2 separate regions of the Homo sapiens genome follow, and region 2 is linked to region 1. Evidence: fine-mapped expression QTL. A gene starts in region 1. The other region holds a variant in brackets. All regions are shown on one strand. Distances are from middle to middle.

Region 1 (8,382 bases):
TTTAACCCTGTATACCCAGAGACCAGCATTGTGCCTGTCAAATGGAGGTACTCTTTTGCAGAATGTATGAATGGAATGAAAGAAATTAAATGAGAGTCAAGGATCTCCATAATCTGGCCCTACTGTACCTTCTCAGCCACACTTTGCTTGTTTAGGTCAATTCACTGCTCCCTGTGGAGGTCTCTGGCTCCCTCTGAGACTACAAATCCTACCCAGACTTTAATACTTGGCTTAAAACCCACCTCCACTAGCACCCCTATCCGAGACATAACCAGCCTCCTCTCCACTTCTATTAGACTCCCATAGCACTTGCTCATCATGCTCCTATCCAACTTTTACTATAAACTACTTTGGAGGGTTAATTTACTGTTCATGCAGTTAGTCTTAGGTCTCATCTACACCTGCACTATGCATCACAGTAGTCACTAGGCACATGGAGCCACTACGTACAAATCCATTTAAATTAAATAAAATTTAAAATGTGGTCCCTGTTCATATTAGGGACACTTCAATTGCTCAATAGCTACTATGGCTAGTGGCTACCATATGGAACAGCACAGACACAGAAAATTTCCACCATTACAGAAATTTCTGTTAGTGCCTTGGGTTCAAGAACTGTATTTTAAACTTCTATTTCACACAGTAAAGATGGTACCCACAACACTTCATAAACAGTGAGTTCAATATTTAATAGAAAAAACAATAACTTGCTGGATAAGATTAATTTTAACGTGACTGTTTACATTATAAACTGTTGTCTTCTACATTAGCACAGGGTCCATACACTAAGTTAAAGACTATCCCTAGGTCAAGTTTTCAGTTTTAGAGAATCCAATATGATTATCTAATACTCAACCATACAAACAGCATTTATATAGTATTATCCAGGTTTATAAAGTGCTTCATATTCACCAATCATTTGTCCAATATATTTTTGGTGAGGAACACAGAGATTCAGGGAAGGTCTAATATTTATTGAGTGGCAACTAAGTACCACTGTGTGAGGTGATTTTCCTGTTTTCATCAGCCTCACAAGATCAAGAGGAAACTGAGGCTGAGAGAAGGTACCTATTCACATCATACAGTAACAAAATCCACATCTCACCACTGCATCCTCAACTCCTTCTGGCTAAATATTTCTACATAAACAAAGTCAATGTATTTAATGAAGTAGATGTTGGCCAATAAAATTACAACCGATCTTAAGTTTGGACAAGAAAAACAAAAAAATTTTTGTATAATACTGAAAGTGTAATTAGATACAGTAAAGTTAGATACAAACGTTACAGATAAACAATGCCTTAAAAAAAAAAAAAGAAACACAGCCTCTTTATTTTGGGAGTAAATGGGCTAAATTAAGGGAAGAAAGCGCAGGCAATTTTTAAAAGCCCAAATTATAAGGCACTTACAAAGATGCATAGTAATATTATTGAAAATAGTTTTACTGTGGGGAATATGTATTCAAATATAGCTGATGACTAGTCTTAAACAATGAGTTAAGCTATTTAAATGTTTAAGACCTATATTACAAATCATTACATTATTCCGAATATCCAACTTATCTCAAAGTTTTAAATCTCGAATGACCCAAATCCTTATTACTAATAAATTATACATTGAGGATATATTAATGAGGTTTTACAGTAGAAAAAGGATTAGGGAGGGGCATTAAAGTCCTTTAAGAGTTTCCATAAATGTGATCCACAAGAACTGGGACATGTTCCAAACTGCACTGTGTTAAAAACTGCCAAGCCAATGAACATTCAATCTTGGTTTCTTCAAATATAATGATGCTCTTTTAGTCTACCTCAAAGAAGAGAACATAAGATGATTACGACATTTTGTATTAGATTTCTAATCTCTGCTGTAATTTCTTCTAGAAAAATACCAGTGATGAGAAAATACACTCTTCATTTGTCCAACTTTTTTTTTTTTTGAGGTCGTCTCTTACTTGCACTAAGGCTCCCATTCTCAAAAAGAAATCGAAAGACTGATATACAGCAAGGCATCAAAGCATTCTTTAGAAGGCTCAGCAACCACTATGGATACTGCCAGGAAATCATTCCAAACACTCTCATTTTGAAAAAGGCAGCAGTCATAAGGGGGAGGGAAGTGGATGCTGTCAGAGGTGGCAGGTGTGTTTTGAGGCCAGCAGTGTTTTGTTTTTAATGTGGCACAGTTGCACGTCTCCAATTGTGTGCCACAAGGGAGCAAAACATCCAACGGCTTCTTAACTGTTTTACAATCATCACCTTGGAGGAAAAGAACACTTTGGTAAGATACACGTTTGGCAACTTTTTTAGGCAGAAAAGCTGAACCGGTTAGAATACTTAAAAAAAAAAATCATGAGCTCCAGTCTAAAGAATAAAATAAAAATAAATTAAATAATAATAAAAAATAATAAACTAAAAAAAAAAAAAATAAACTCCAAAAACAACTAGCTAAAATGAAAGTAATGCAGAACTGGATGCCATGTTTCTTTTCTTTGAGGAGGAAGAGGTATGGGAAAGGAGGTACATTGTTGCTTCTTCCCTACACCTTTGTATAATGTAGATCTCTCTCTCTCTCTCAATAGCTTTCTTTTCACTTGTTACATAAAAGCAAAGTGTTACAAAAAGTAGACTCTTGCGGTATCTTCCCACAGTACTTCAAGTAAAATGGAAGAGATACATATGTCAGTTCTGCAGTGTCCCGTTAAAGAGGGCAGCAGTGTTGGGATAAAAATGAGTTAACATGCTCCTTGTAACTATGAATCCGCTTATGCTAAAAAGTATCAAGGTTTCATTTGCTTTATCCCAGACTCCACACTGCGCCCACAGAAGCTTCTCTTGAGAATGTTCTGTTCACCTTTCAAAACACAATGTATTATCGGAGTCACTTTACAATTTTGTGGCAAGTAAGGCTAAAGTCAAAAGCAGCCTCAAACCACCTTTAGTTAGTAAACTGAGGGGTTTGAGGCTCATTAAAAGTAAGAGGATCGGTTACCCCCTCTTGCCAACGTCCGGGATGAATCTCAAGAGTTGTGTTTACAAGGCATACACGGACCCACATCGTTGTGTGCGCCCGAGTACCTTAAACACAGGAAGGATGTCGACCTACGGGGGACGTCTCTGGAGTTTCGTGAACTCCTATGAAAAGGTGGGGAGGGACAGAGAAAGTAGTTCCGTTTTGATTTTTTGAGGTCACTTCTAGGGACTCGACCGCGAGCGCGTCCCGGTAGCGGAAAGCCGGGCCAGCGGCGGCCGACAACGGTCCCGCCCGACACGGCTCTGCCTCCTCCCTAGAAGGGCTCGTGGGCCAGGACCCGCTGTCCGCCCGCCGCCCGAGGTCGGGTGGACGCTTGGCCCCGCCCCCGCCCGCTCCCGACGACCCTCGGAGGCGGCGGAGGCGCGCGACTCACATGTGTGGGTTCCTCCTGAAGGCGTTAGTGATGTCCTTCACAACCCGCTGCACCAGCACCGCCACCTCCTCGCTGGTCTCGGCCATGTTGGCGGCGGCCGCGACAGTTCGGGCGCGCCTCCGCGTGAGCCGGGCCGCCGGCGGGAGTTCCGCGGAGAACGAGCGCGCGCGCGCGCGCGCGGGTGCTTCGGCTAGGCCGCGTCCCCGCCGCCGCGGCCGCCGCCGAGCACTTCCGGGTCAGCCAGTTGGCGGCCTGGGCGTGGCGTTAGCTAGGGTTGGTGGCCTTCCAGTGAGTGGAGAAGTTCGCCTCCGCGCGGGTAACGGACTTTCTAAGCGTCAGAGAAGATGCTGGACATTTGTTTGCAAAGTTCTCTCAGGCCTCCGATTTTCTTATTTTAAGTTTTAGGCGAAACCTCAAGACACACTCCCAGAGAGTCAGACACCTTCCTGAACCCCCCCAGCAAGGTCCCCGGGCATTCCTGAAGGAATGTTCAACTGAGGATGCAGGGCCTCTTAACAGTTAGTCCCGGGCGTTTTTCAGAGCTTGTCTGCTTTATTTTCCCAGCCTGAGAGATGAAGAGGTCCAGAGGCATTGCGGCGGAGCGAGTCCCTATTTGACCGTGTTGGTGACCTCCTTTCTAACTGTGCCAATTTTTGTCTCTGAACTTGAAAGCAGCCTTTTTAAAAAACATTAATTAAAATTCTTAAATTTATTAAAGGAAGAGAAAGGAAAGTGAAGGAAAAGTTATTTGCCATCTGTATGTAGGAAGTAGAAGTGAAATCGTTTTTAGATTTTTCGACTTCATTTTGTACTGCATTTGGTAGCCTTTGCGTCAATTTTGGAATTTAAAAAAAAGGATCAAGGCTCTGACAGGGTTTGTTCATAATAGCAAAAATAAATTTTTGTAGGAAAAACGAGCTTTCTAGTTTATTTAGGATTTTGAAATGCCATAACTAAAATTTTTGTGTATCAGGTTTTCTTTTGCACCTCTGGTAGAAAAATCTGGCTGCCCTTGGTTCAGTTTTATTCTTCCACCCTTGAAATCTGGCCAGGTGCGGTGGCTCACGCCTGTAATCCCAGCACTTTGGGGGGCCAAGGCGGGCGGATCACAAGGTCAGGAGATCGAGACCATCCTGGCTAACACGGTGAAACCCCGTCTCTACTAAAAATACAAAAAAAAAAAAAAAAAAAAAAAAGCCGGGCGTGGTGGCGGGCGCCTGTAATCCCAGCTACTCCCCACTGCACTCCAGCCTGGGCGACAGAGCGAGACTCCGTCTTTAAAAAAAGGCCGGGCGCGGTGGCTCACGCCTGTAATCCCAGCACCTTGGGAGGCCGAGGCGGGTGGATCATGAGGTCAGGAGATCGAGACCATCCTGGCTAACAAGGTGAAACCCCGTCTCTACTAAAAATACAAAAAATTAGCTGGGCGCGGTGGCGGGCGCCTGTAGTCCCAGCTACTCGGGAGGCTGAGGCAGGAGAATGGCGTGAACCCGGGAAGCGGAGCTTGCAGTGAGCCGAGATTGCGCCACTGCAGTCCGCAGTCCGGCCTGGGCGACAGAGCGAGACTCTGTCTCAAAAAAAAAAAAAAAGAAATCTGTATCTTTAAAAAGCTATTAAAAAAATAAACTCATGGTGTGTTTAATGTGAACATATGCGGAGCGTTTGAAGTAGTTTTTATGATTGTAAAAGTAAAAGCTATCTATTGCATGTAAAGTGAATGAGAAATATAAACGAAAAATATAAATTTACTATACTCAGTGGCCAGTATTTCCTGTGGGTATGTTTATAAAGGCTGGAGTTAGCCTTCTGGTTGTAAAAGAAGTGAGATAGGACCGGGCACGGTGGCTTACACCTGTAATCCCAGCACTTTGGGAGGCAGAGGCGGAAGGATCACGAGGTCAGGAGTTCGAGACCATCGTGGCCAAGACAGTGAAACGCCGTCTCTACTAAAAATATAAAATTAGCTGGGCGTGGTGGCACGTGCTTGTAATCCCAGCTACTTGGGAGGCTGAGGCAGGAGAAGCGCTTGAACGCGGAAGTAGGAGGTTGCAGTGAGTGGAGATCGCGCCACTGCCCTCCAGCCTGGCGACAGAGCAAGACTCCATCTAAAAAAAAAAAAAAAGAAGTGAGATAGAAGTTTCACAAAATTGTAGCCAGCAAGGTGGGACAGGATTAAGAATTAGTAAAGTCGGCCGGGCACGGTGTCTCACGCCTGTAATCCCAGCACTTTGGGAGGCCGAGGCGGGTGGATACCTGAGATCAGGAGTTTGAGACCAGCCTGGCCAACAGGGTGAAACCCCGTCTCTACTTAAAATACAAAATTAGCTGGGCGTCGTGGTGCATGCCTGTAGCTCCAGCTACTTGGGAGGCTGAGGCAGGAGAATCGCTTGAACCCGGGAGACGCACGTTGCAGTAAGCCAAGACTGTGCCCTGCACTCCAGCCTGGGCAACAAAAGCGAAATGCCATCTCAAAAAAAAAAAAAAAAAAAAAAGAAAGAAAAAAAAAGAGTTAGTAAAATCAATCAAAATTTAACCGATAACAAGTTCTGGAGTGAAGCAGTGAAAAGAGTGGAATGTGTGTTTAGATTTCAAGGCAAAAGACAACTTTAAATATCCTGATTAAGAATGTAAGACCAGTTCTTAAATTAAAATTCTTAAACTTAGTAAGTTTTCTTAATCAGGACCTTGCATCCTAATGGCAGTGGGAAATAAATCCCAATTTCTGGAGGCAGAGATCAAAGCAGCACACTCAGAAATAATGATTTTCCCCGAAAGGCTTTATTTAACAGGGAAAAAAGAAAACTTTGTCCCCAAATTTTGATGTAAAACAGCTATTTCAGAAACAGAATTCCTCTGTATGATTCTGTGTATGCCCTCTCCACATGCAACCTCTTTATAGTCATTTGAAAGGCATGCATTGTATCTTGTTTCCTCTAAGAATTCACAAATTGTTTTACCCCAATTATTAAGAATCTACTATGTTTAGAACTTGTTTTTTTTTTTAGAATTGGAGCATAATTAGAACTCTGAGCCAACTCTCTAATTTTACAGATAAGAAAACAGAAGTCCAAAGGATTTAAGATTTGAAATTCATAAATCCTCAATAATGATATATATGTATACAAGAATAGGGCATAATAAATTCAGCGTGATTTTGTCGAAGGACTACAAGATTTATGTTCATTTATTGATAATAAAATACAGTAAATAACTTAAATGCCCAATGAGAGGGGATTGATTAAATTATAAATTTATATGGTAAGATGCTATTTAGTATTTGAAAATGTAGGGGTGGGTTGCCCCTACACACTTGTGGGTGTTTCTCGTAAGGTGGGACGAGAGATTTGGAAAAGAAAAAGACACAGAGACAAAGTATAGAGAAAGAAATAAGGGGACCCGGGGAACCAGCGTTCAGCATATGGAGGATCCCGCCAGCCTCTGAGTTCCCTTAGTATTTATTGATCATCTGTGGGTGTTTCTCAAAGAGGGGGATGTGTCAGGGTCACAAGACAATTGTGGGGAGAGGGTCAGCAGACAAACACGTGAACAAAGGTCTTTGCATCATAGACAATGTAAAGGATTAAGTGCTGTGCTTTTAGATATGCATACACATAAACATCTCAATGCTTTACAAAGCAGTATTGCTGCCCGCAGGTCCCACCTCCAGCCCTAAGGCAGTTTTTCCCTATCTCAGTAGATGCAGCATACAATCGGGTTTTATACCGAGACATTCCATTGCCCAGGGACAGGCAGGAGACAGATGCCTTCCTCTTGTCTCAACTGCAAGAGGCATTCCTTCCTCTTTTACTAATCCTCCTCAGCACAGACCCTTTACGGGTGTCGGGCTGGGGGACGGTCAGGTCTTTCCCTTCCCACGAGGCCATATTTCAGACTATCACATGGGGAGAAACCTTGGACAATACCTGGCTTTCCTAGGCAGAGGTCCCTGCGGACTTCCGCAGTTTTTGTGTCCCTGGGTACTTGAGATTAGGGAGTGGTGATGACTCTTAACGAGCATGCTGCCTTCAAGCATCTGTTTAACAAAGCACATCTTGCACCGCCCTTAATCCATTCAACTCTGAGTTGACACAGCACATGTTTCAGAGAGCACGGGGTTGGGGGTAAGGTTATAGATTAACAGGATCTCAAGGCAGAAGAATTTCTCCTAGTACATAACAAAATGGAGTCTCCTATGTCTACTTCTTTCTACACAGACACAGTAACAATCTGATCTCTCTTGCTTTTCCCCACATGAAAATCACATTATAACTAGAGGAATATATACCAAAGTGTTAGAGGTATTTTCATAGGACAATTTGACTATGTAATGTAAAGAGCAAAGTAACATTTGTAATTTAAGAATTTTTTTTTTTTTGAGACGGATTCTCACTCTGTCGTGCAGGCTGCAGTGCAGTGGTACAGGTTCAAGCGATTCTCCTGTGTCAGCCTCCTGAGTAGCTGGTATTACAGACACACGCCACCACACCTGGCTAATTTTTCTATTTTTAGTAGAGACTGGGTTTCACCATGTTGGCCAGGCTGGTCTCGAATTCCTGACCTCAACTCCTGACCACCCACCTCGGCCTCCCAAAGTGCTGGGATTACAGGCTTGAGCCACTGCACCTGGCCTAAGAAAAGTTTTTTAAATTATATATTAATAAGGAGCTGATATATTTGTTTGTTAATTAGCCAAATATATTATGTGCATACTAATTTTCTTACAGATATATTGATTTTTTTAAGTGACCATGTCTATTATTATCATTTACATGGTTGTGAATATATTTTGACAATCTTCCTACCCACTCCCAAAAACCACACGTTTCTTATTTTAGAAGACTAATTGATGATAGAGGAAAATGTGGATATGTAATGACCAAAACAAGTACCAAATACAAATACAATACAATATAATCCTAATTTCATATATACCATACAAATTGTATGTAATATAGATATAATTGTACATATATATAAAATAG
Region 2 (8,382 bases), 23 kb before region 1:
CTGGAACGGACATAAGATCCTAAAAATGCCCACGATTTAAGAAAAATTAGAGTGGCTTAATAAACTGAGAATTTCAGAGTGACTTCTTCATTGGTCCTGACTAGCAAGCCCACACCATCCCATTTTGGTCAAATAAGAGTAGTTACACAGGGTCCAAGAGGAAGATGGTTCCAGGTGGCCAGGATTTTGAGAGTCCTAAAGTGCATTCTGGCTATCTGTCCCATGCTTTTAACCTAAAAATGTTCTTTGTATGTATGGATTTTAGCAACTTTAGCTCAGCCTACACAGCATTCGCTTCAGCTGCCCTCAGCTTTCTCTGTAAGTTAATTTTAATAACCACAACCATCACCACCAACATCTTTACCAGGAAAACAACCAAATGCTTTTAAAATCCATATTGCTCATTACAGTTGAGTATCTATAAATGCAATGCCCACAACTGCTTCAAAGAGTTAATAATAGCTAACATTTATTGAGTATTTAATATGTGCCAGGCACTGTGGGAGTGTTACATGCATTAACTCACGTAAACTTGACTGTTAACTATATGAGACAGGTGTAATTATTATTCTCATTTTACAAATGAGAAAACTGAGGCTTGGTGAGTTAAGTAATTTCCCATGAACACTTAGGTAGCAAGTTATATAGCTCCTAGATTTAAATGTAGGTAACCTGACTTCAGAATTCATGCTCTGGAACCAATAAGTAACCTTGCCTCTCACATGTCATGTTTCTTTCTCCAGCCAGTCTGAATCCTAAGTAAGAGTACTATGTTGTAAATTAACCACACCTGTGAATCCATGTTTCTGGACTCTTTGGAAACTTGGTTAAGGCGAGTTTTCCCAGATGTAAATCCTTAATTGGATTTAAAGTGCCAGAGAGGATCAGCTCTTTCCTGTAAAAAAAAAAAAAAAAAAAAAAAAAAATTAAACATTACTTTATCCTTATATCCAAAGGTTCTACATGGCTTTTAATATAATCTCATTGTGAAGCGAATGTCTAAGAATTTTAAAACAAAAAAAGAAAGAAAAAAAGCCCAAGCCACTCTGGGATATAAAACACTCATAAATGTGACATGCAGTAATCAAGAATGTATTCTCATAATCCCAATATAACAAACTAATAAGCAGAAAGAGAAGCTCTTAAATCAACAGATTTTAACGATTTTTAAATCTTAACTATTTGCGTGAGGGTAAATGGGGTTTTCTGGCCTATCTCATTTCCAAAAGTTGTGAGACCTGATATCGTACCTATAGGGCCAATCCAATACCAGCCAAAATTGGTCTAGTTTCCTAAATAGGACTTGACATGGTCTATTTCATTACAAAACCACACATACAACAAACACAATATGGTTGAGATGTAAGGGAAAAAAAAATCATTCATGGAATCACTATTCTAACCAAATTACTATTTTTTATTTTTGAATTTTCCCTTCTACTTTTCCCTATCACACATACATTTTAACATATAATTTTACATCCTGCTCTCATTATATCTTAAGAATTTCCCCATGATTCTATATAATCTTTGTAATGAACATTTTAAATGATCAAATTAGTTTTCATTTAGAAGCTATGCTTTTCCCTTCTTGTTAGACATTTAGGTTGCGTCAAACTTTTTGTTATTTTAAAACAAATCTGGGCAGGGGAAGCTTTGTGCTTATAACTTCTTTCTTTTGTATTCTTACTTTGGATAAGTTTCCAAAAGAGCTATTAACAAGGTAAAATACTTACATGACCCTTGATATACGAGGCCATTCCTTTTTAAAATATTAATATAAGCAGCAGAAGTAATAGCAATGTAATGTTTTGGTTGTTTTTAAAACTGTTCAAGCCCAACCAAAGCTTCAATGCAATCAGTTGTCCCTTGGTATCTTGTGGGGGCTTGGTTCAGGACCTCCCAAGGATACCAAAATCTGCGAATGCTCAAGTCCTTGATATAAAATGTGTTGCCATATAACCTACACACATCCTCCCATATACTTCATATCATCTCTAGATTACTTATAATACCTAATACAATGTAAATGCTATATAAATAGTTGTTACATTATTCAGGGACTAATGATAGGAAAACAAAGTCTGAACATGTTCGCTACAGAAAGCAATTTTTTCCCCAAATATTTTCTATCTGCGGTTGGTTGAATCCATGGATGCAGAACCTACAGATACAGAGGGCCAACTATATAAAGAATGTCATGCAAGAGCTTTCTATACCTGTTTCTCAGGTAAATACAATTTACATTTAATTTCTCAGGTAAGTTTTTGATAAGTGCTGATATTACACTCTCACTGAATTCTCAATGTATCTATAATTTTATAATAAAATCAGATCATTTGTTATTATTTATCTTAAAATGTCCTTCCTGTGTAGGGCTGATTATTCATTTATTTTAGAGAAGTTTAAGCCAGAGAAAACCAGAATCCAGCTCTTATACCATATCTACTTAGACGGACTTAATTCCTAAATACCACAATACATTTTCTTTCCAACAGTGACATACTATTTATAAAGTTTTATTTGATAAAGAAAACAACTATTTTCCTTTCAATGTTCAGGAAACCAATTTGTCATTATATATATATAATATATATATAAAATATATATTTTTTTCTTGCAACAGCCAATTGCTTTTGCAGTCTTGGATTATTTTTCTTCTGAAATCAGTAACATTTTGTTCATACAGTAAGTCAGGATACCTATAAAGTAAAAGGAGGAAAATATTGCTCTATGTAATTTTAACCACGTTTGAAAGCAATGTTTCTCAAAGTGAACCCTGACTGCAACATCAGCATCATCTGGAACTTATGCGAAATGCAGATCCTCAGGCCTCAGCCCAGAACCAACTGAGTCAGAAACTCAGGTGGGCACAGCAATATGTGTTTTAAAACAAGCTCTTCAGATGATGCCCATTGGCTGGGCACGGTAGCTCACGCCTGTAATCCCAGCACTTTGGGAGGCCGAGGCAGGTGGATCACGAGGTCAAGAGATTGAGACCATCCTGGCCAACATGGTGAAACTTTGTTTCTATTAAAAGTAAAAAAATTAGCTGGGCATGGTGGCACGCACCTGTAGTCCCAGCTACTTGGGAGGCTGAGGCAGGAGAATCGCTTGAACCCAGGAGGCAGAGGTTGCAGTGAGCCAAGATCGCGCCACTGCACTCCAGCCTGGCAATAATGATGCCCATTAAAGTTTAAAAAACAACTACTATAATGAATTTATTGTATTATGCTTAATTTCCATTTCATAAATTTAAGACCTCTTATTATTTATAACTGTCTACCTTTATTCCCATATATATCCATATATAAGGGGAGATAATCAAAATTTTCTTCAAAAAAGAGGCAGTTACCCTACAACTGAGTTTTGACAAAGTTTCTTAAATTATGGGCACTCTCTTTTGCAACCACTGCGGTACAGAATTTTAAAAAAAGAAAAAGAAAAAAATGGGGACTCCGTTAATATCTTTATTTTGAATTAAGCAGCATTTTTGGGAAGACATCTTAGCTTGAAACAACCTCAATCAATGTTAATATATGGACACTGAAAAAGATCACCTGATGGAATCAAGCAAAATTTTAATATCAATGTAATAAACATTGCTAGGGGTAGTACTGAACATTTGTAGGTGTTGGATATTGCTGAAACAAGTTTTTCAAAAATCACTTTAAGAGGAAATATGATATGTGGTAACATTAACAGCAATCACATAATCTAGTGCTATATATTTTTTTTTAGATGGGGTCTCACTGTCTTGCCCAGGCTGGAGTACAGTGGCACAATCTTGGCTCACTGAAATCTCTGCCTCCTGGGCTCAAGTGATCCTCCTGCCTCAGCCTCCCAAGCAGCTGGGACCACAGGCACACACAACCACGTCTAGCTAATTTTTTGTATTTTTGGTGGAGACAGGGTCTCACCATGTTGCCCAGGCTGGTCTCAAACTTCTGAGCTCAAGCAATCCACCCATCTCGGCCTCCCAAAGTGCTGGGATTACAGGTGTGAGCCACCATACCTGGCCTTAGAGCTACATTTTAAAAAAATCAACTGCTCTAATGTATTCAAATAAGAATCTGACTGGAGATACAATTTCCACTCACAAACAGATTCAAAAAGTGCTGTAGCTCAAACAACTTAGATATACTATGATGGGCTCTGGAAAA[A/C]TGTGCTACAGAACTAAAAACAACTAGGTCTTGTGATGACAAAGTCACTGATGTCAATGAGGCATGTAAGGTGTTTGAATAAAACTGACTACTCTTTTTCTTTTCTCAATCTTTACTCTGTCTGAAATGACAATAATAATGGCCATCCTCATTAAAAACTACCATGTATTGAACACTTCCTCTGAGTCAAGAACCGTGTAAAGTGATTTACATATGTTACATAATTTCTCACAACAATCCTGTAAGGTAAATATCATCATTGAGCCATATGAAATTGCTGATACTCAATCTTTTTTTAAAAATAAACTTTTTATTTTACAATAGTTTCAGGTTCGTAAACAAGTTGTAAGGATAATACAAAGAATTCCCATATGCCCTGTACCTAGTTTCTCTGCTATTAACATCTTATATTACCATGGTACCTTTGTCAAAATTTATGCAACAGTATTGATATTGATATATTTTTATTAAAAGTCCATACTTTATTTAGAATTCCTTAGTTTCTACCAAATGTCCTTTTCCTCTTCTAAAGTTCCCTCCAGGATCCCTTATATTTGGTAGTTATGTCTCCTTATGCTCCTCTTGGCTACTCAAATTTACCTTGCTTTTGATGACTTTGACAGTTTTGAGAATATGGGTCAGGTATTTTGTATAATGTTTTTCTCATCATTAAACTGGAGTTACAGATTCTGGAGAGGAAGACCAAAGAGGTAAAGTGACATTTTCACTGCATCATATCAGAGGCATGTGCTATCAACATGACTTAGCATTGTTGATATCAATCTGGATTACCTGGCTGAGTTCAGGTTTCTTCACTACTTTTTGCAAGAAAGTCACTGATTTTTTTATTTGGTGCACAGCTCAACCTTAAGAAATACAGAGTTATGCTCTACCTTGTAGAGGGGGATTATCTAGATAAATTAACAGAACATTTGTCTATTGTCTCTTACTTATATATTCATTCATTCATTTCAGTGGGCTGATGGATAGGGGTATAATCCAATACTATGTTATTTATTTTGTTGCTCAAATCATTCCAGCTATGGCCACTGGAAGCTCTTTCAGTTGCTCCCCATGTCCCTTTTTCATATCCCACCATATATTTTTGAATACTTCCTTACTTTCTGGCTCTATAAGATGCTCCAAGCTCATCTTGTATACTTCCTGCTCTGGTCCTAGAATCAGCCATTTCTAACATCATTAAAGAATGGTATTAGAAACCACAATGTGGGTGCTAGAATTAAATTGTTTTTTATCTATATAAAAAAAATTTCCCTAACACCTCAATTTTTTTTTTTTTTTTTGAGACGGAGTCTTGCTCTGTCACCAGGCTGGAGTGCAGTGGCACGCTCTTGGCTCACTGCAACCTCCGCCTCCCAGGTTCAAGCGATTCCCCTTCCTCAGCCTCCAGAGTGGCTGGGACTACACATGTGCACTGACACGCACGGCTAATTTTTTGTATTTTAGTAGAGATGGGGTTTCACCATATTGGCCAGGATGGTCTTGATCTCCTGACCTCGTGATCCACCCACCTTGGCCTCCCAAAGTGCTGGGATTACAGGCGTGAGCCACCATGCCCGGCCAAATACCTCAATTTTACAGATGAAGAAATTGAATCCTGGAGAAGTTCAGTAACTTGCTCAGGTTTCTTAGCTCAAAATGTCAGAACCAAACATCAAATCTGCACAAAATAAAGTTACCAATTTAAATCAATAGGCTATGAGTTCAGAACATGAATCACTGGAGTTTGGCATCAACTATTCTAGTTGCTCAAAGGTGTTTTGCTTACTCTAAGTACATAGACTGATGAAGAAAATAGGACATTATTACTAAGTCAACCTCTTTCATCAGGTAATTCACAAATTTCCAAAGCAAAAAAAAAAAGCAGTTTTCTTTAAAAAAAAAAAAGACAGCTGAAATTCTAAATTATGTGTATCACTCACTGTAATTACAGGAGATCAGTTCAAAAACTTATTTTTGCCTCTATTTCTTTCCCCTAAGACTGCAATACCCACAAATTGAACTAGACGTCTATTGCATTATTCTTTAGCAGTTTGAAAAATGCATTAAAAAATCACTCAATGCCTTCCAGGGTTAGTACAGAAGAGATCCACTAACAATTAAAAATAAAGTTCTGTGTATTTGATACGCAATAGAGACCTTATAGGGTTAGAATTTACTTTGAAGTTGGTAGTTTGTTGCTCAAAATGTACCTATGATTTGATGTCTTTCTATGTCAATCAATCTTACTGATATGAATTAAAATTTACTAGAACACATATCCACAAAGGATTTTTTAAAAATCAAGATTCCCTTTCTACTCATCTAGCACAAAACCTTACTAATCATCTAACTAGAACAATTTTCAAGATTAACTGTCATAAACATCCCTCAAGTTAGATTTATGGAGCAACTTCCCTTCATAAGACCAACCAGACATATTTTTTTAAAAGTTTAATAGAATCATAAAAAAATTCACCTAATTCAAATCTTTTATTTCATAGATAAAAAAACCAAAACTCTTGATAATTAAAAGTTATACTCAAAGTCAGCCGCTAGTTAACTTATGAAACAGGACTAAGTTCCATGAATCTTAAGGCCAGGATTTTTTCTCCTATGCTCAACTGGTTTATAGGATATACAATGAATAACATGTGTGTATACATATATGTATATAGGTGTGTGTGTGTATGTATGTATGTAGGTATATACACTATGCTAGTGAGATCATTTTTTGTTGAAGCATTTTTGAATTCCTCTCTATTGGTGAGGATGATGAAACAGGACTAAGTTCCATGAATCTTAGGCCTAGGTTTTTTTCTCCTATGCTCAACGGGCTTATAGAATATACAATGAATAACACGTGTGTATACACATATGTATACAGGTGTGTGTGTGTGTGTGTATGTACCTATCTATGCATATATGCTAGGCTAGTGAGAATTTTTTTGTTGAAGGACTTTTGAATTCCTCTCTATAGGTGAGGAATACAAGAACATGAAGAAAAATGGCATTCCTACTTCCCTATTACTCTGATTTCTTTTTCACTGAATTTGATTTCCGTGCCCAATTTGCAAACTGCATGTCTATTATGTACCGGCACTAGAGTTAGATGCTAAGGAAACAAAGGGGAAAAAAAAAAAAAAAAAGACATGGTCCCTGCCCTTAAAAAAGCTCTGAATTTTAAGTTCATGGTACCTTCCTAAAAGTCTCCTTTGCTGATTCTTCCTCATCTTGCAAATGCTAGAACAGTGCTGTCCAATAGAAATATAATGTGAGTCACAAATACGAGTCATATATGATTTAAAATGTTCTAACAGCTATATTAAACACAAGTATAAATATATTTAATTCAATATATCCAAAATATAATAATTTCAGCAAGTAATATAAAAATTATTAATGAGATATTTCCATTTTTTGCTAGGTAGTCTTCAAAATATGATGTGCAGTTTATCACTTCGGACACATCTCAGTTGAGACTAATCACATTTCAAGGGCTCAATAGCCACATGTGGCTAATGGCTACTGTACTGGATTGTGCAACCCTAGAAAATAGAATGTCTCAGGGCTCAGTCTTTGAACTGGTTCTTGTCTCTAGCTATGCCAACACTTTTGGGGATCTTAAAACAGTTTCATGGCTTTAAAACCATCTATATGTTAGTAATTCCCAAGTTTACATCTGGCCCAGACCTTTTTCCTGAACTTTAAATTAATATACAACTACTTGGACACAAATCTAACATGTCCCAATCTGAACTCTTGGCCTATAACAAACACCGCCTACCTAAATCTGTTTCTCTTCCAGACACTGCCATTTCAGTAAATGGCAATTCCATCCTTTCAGTTGCTCAGGGAAAAAGCCAGAGGCAAGCATGACTCCCTCTTTCTCATCCCATACACTTTCCACTACACTGCAGTGCTTCTCAAATACCAATGATATAATGTTATATGCCTTATAAGCCAACCAGTTATGCCCATTGCCCATTAGTCTCCCACCCCAAAAAATGAAGGAAAATAAAAGCATGTATCAAACAGTATACTGTAACTCAACATGACAATTTATATTTCAGGCAAGAAAGTTTATGAAGACACCACACAAAAAGGGGCAAAATGCCTATTTAGAATTGTCACAGGTATAAAGAATAGGGAGAAGAAATAAGTGTAAAATGGTTTATATTTCGTTTTCAAAAGCTAACAACTTATGGGGCTTACATGT

What was found. PIP is the estimated chance that this variant, and not a neighbour inherited with it, causes the effect.
Region 2: its variant is the best candidate, but not a certain one, in a credible set for the expression of PTAR1 in whole blood (INTERVAL, PIP 0.87).

What each region holds. Positions count from the first base shown.
Region 1 is chr9:69,756,453-69,764,834 of GRCh38, forward strand. PTAR1 (protein prenyltransferase alpha subunit repeat containing 1) reads right to left here and starts at 3,559. Exons shown (of 8, transcript NM_001099666.2): 1 at 3,401-3,559. The coding sequence starts at 3,486. It overlaps LOC105376076 (a long non-coding RNA gene), which reads left to right and starts at 3,643. Exons shown (of 4, transcript XR_929910.3): 1 at 3,643-4,021. RefSeq lists enhancers at 3,057-3,106, 4,581-5,436, 6,291-7,146, 7,147-8,001 and silencers at 3,247-3,716, 5,621-5,915.
Region 2 is chr9:69,733,360-69,741,741 of GRCh38, forward strand. It overlaps PTAR1 (protein prenyltransferase alpha subunit repeat containing 1), which reads right to left. Exons shown (of 8, transcript NM_001099666.2): 4 at 791-895. Among named protein-coding and RNA genes, the nearest start is that of PTAR1, 22 kb to the right of the region's middle. The variant A/C (reference allele first, on the strand shown) is at 4,164.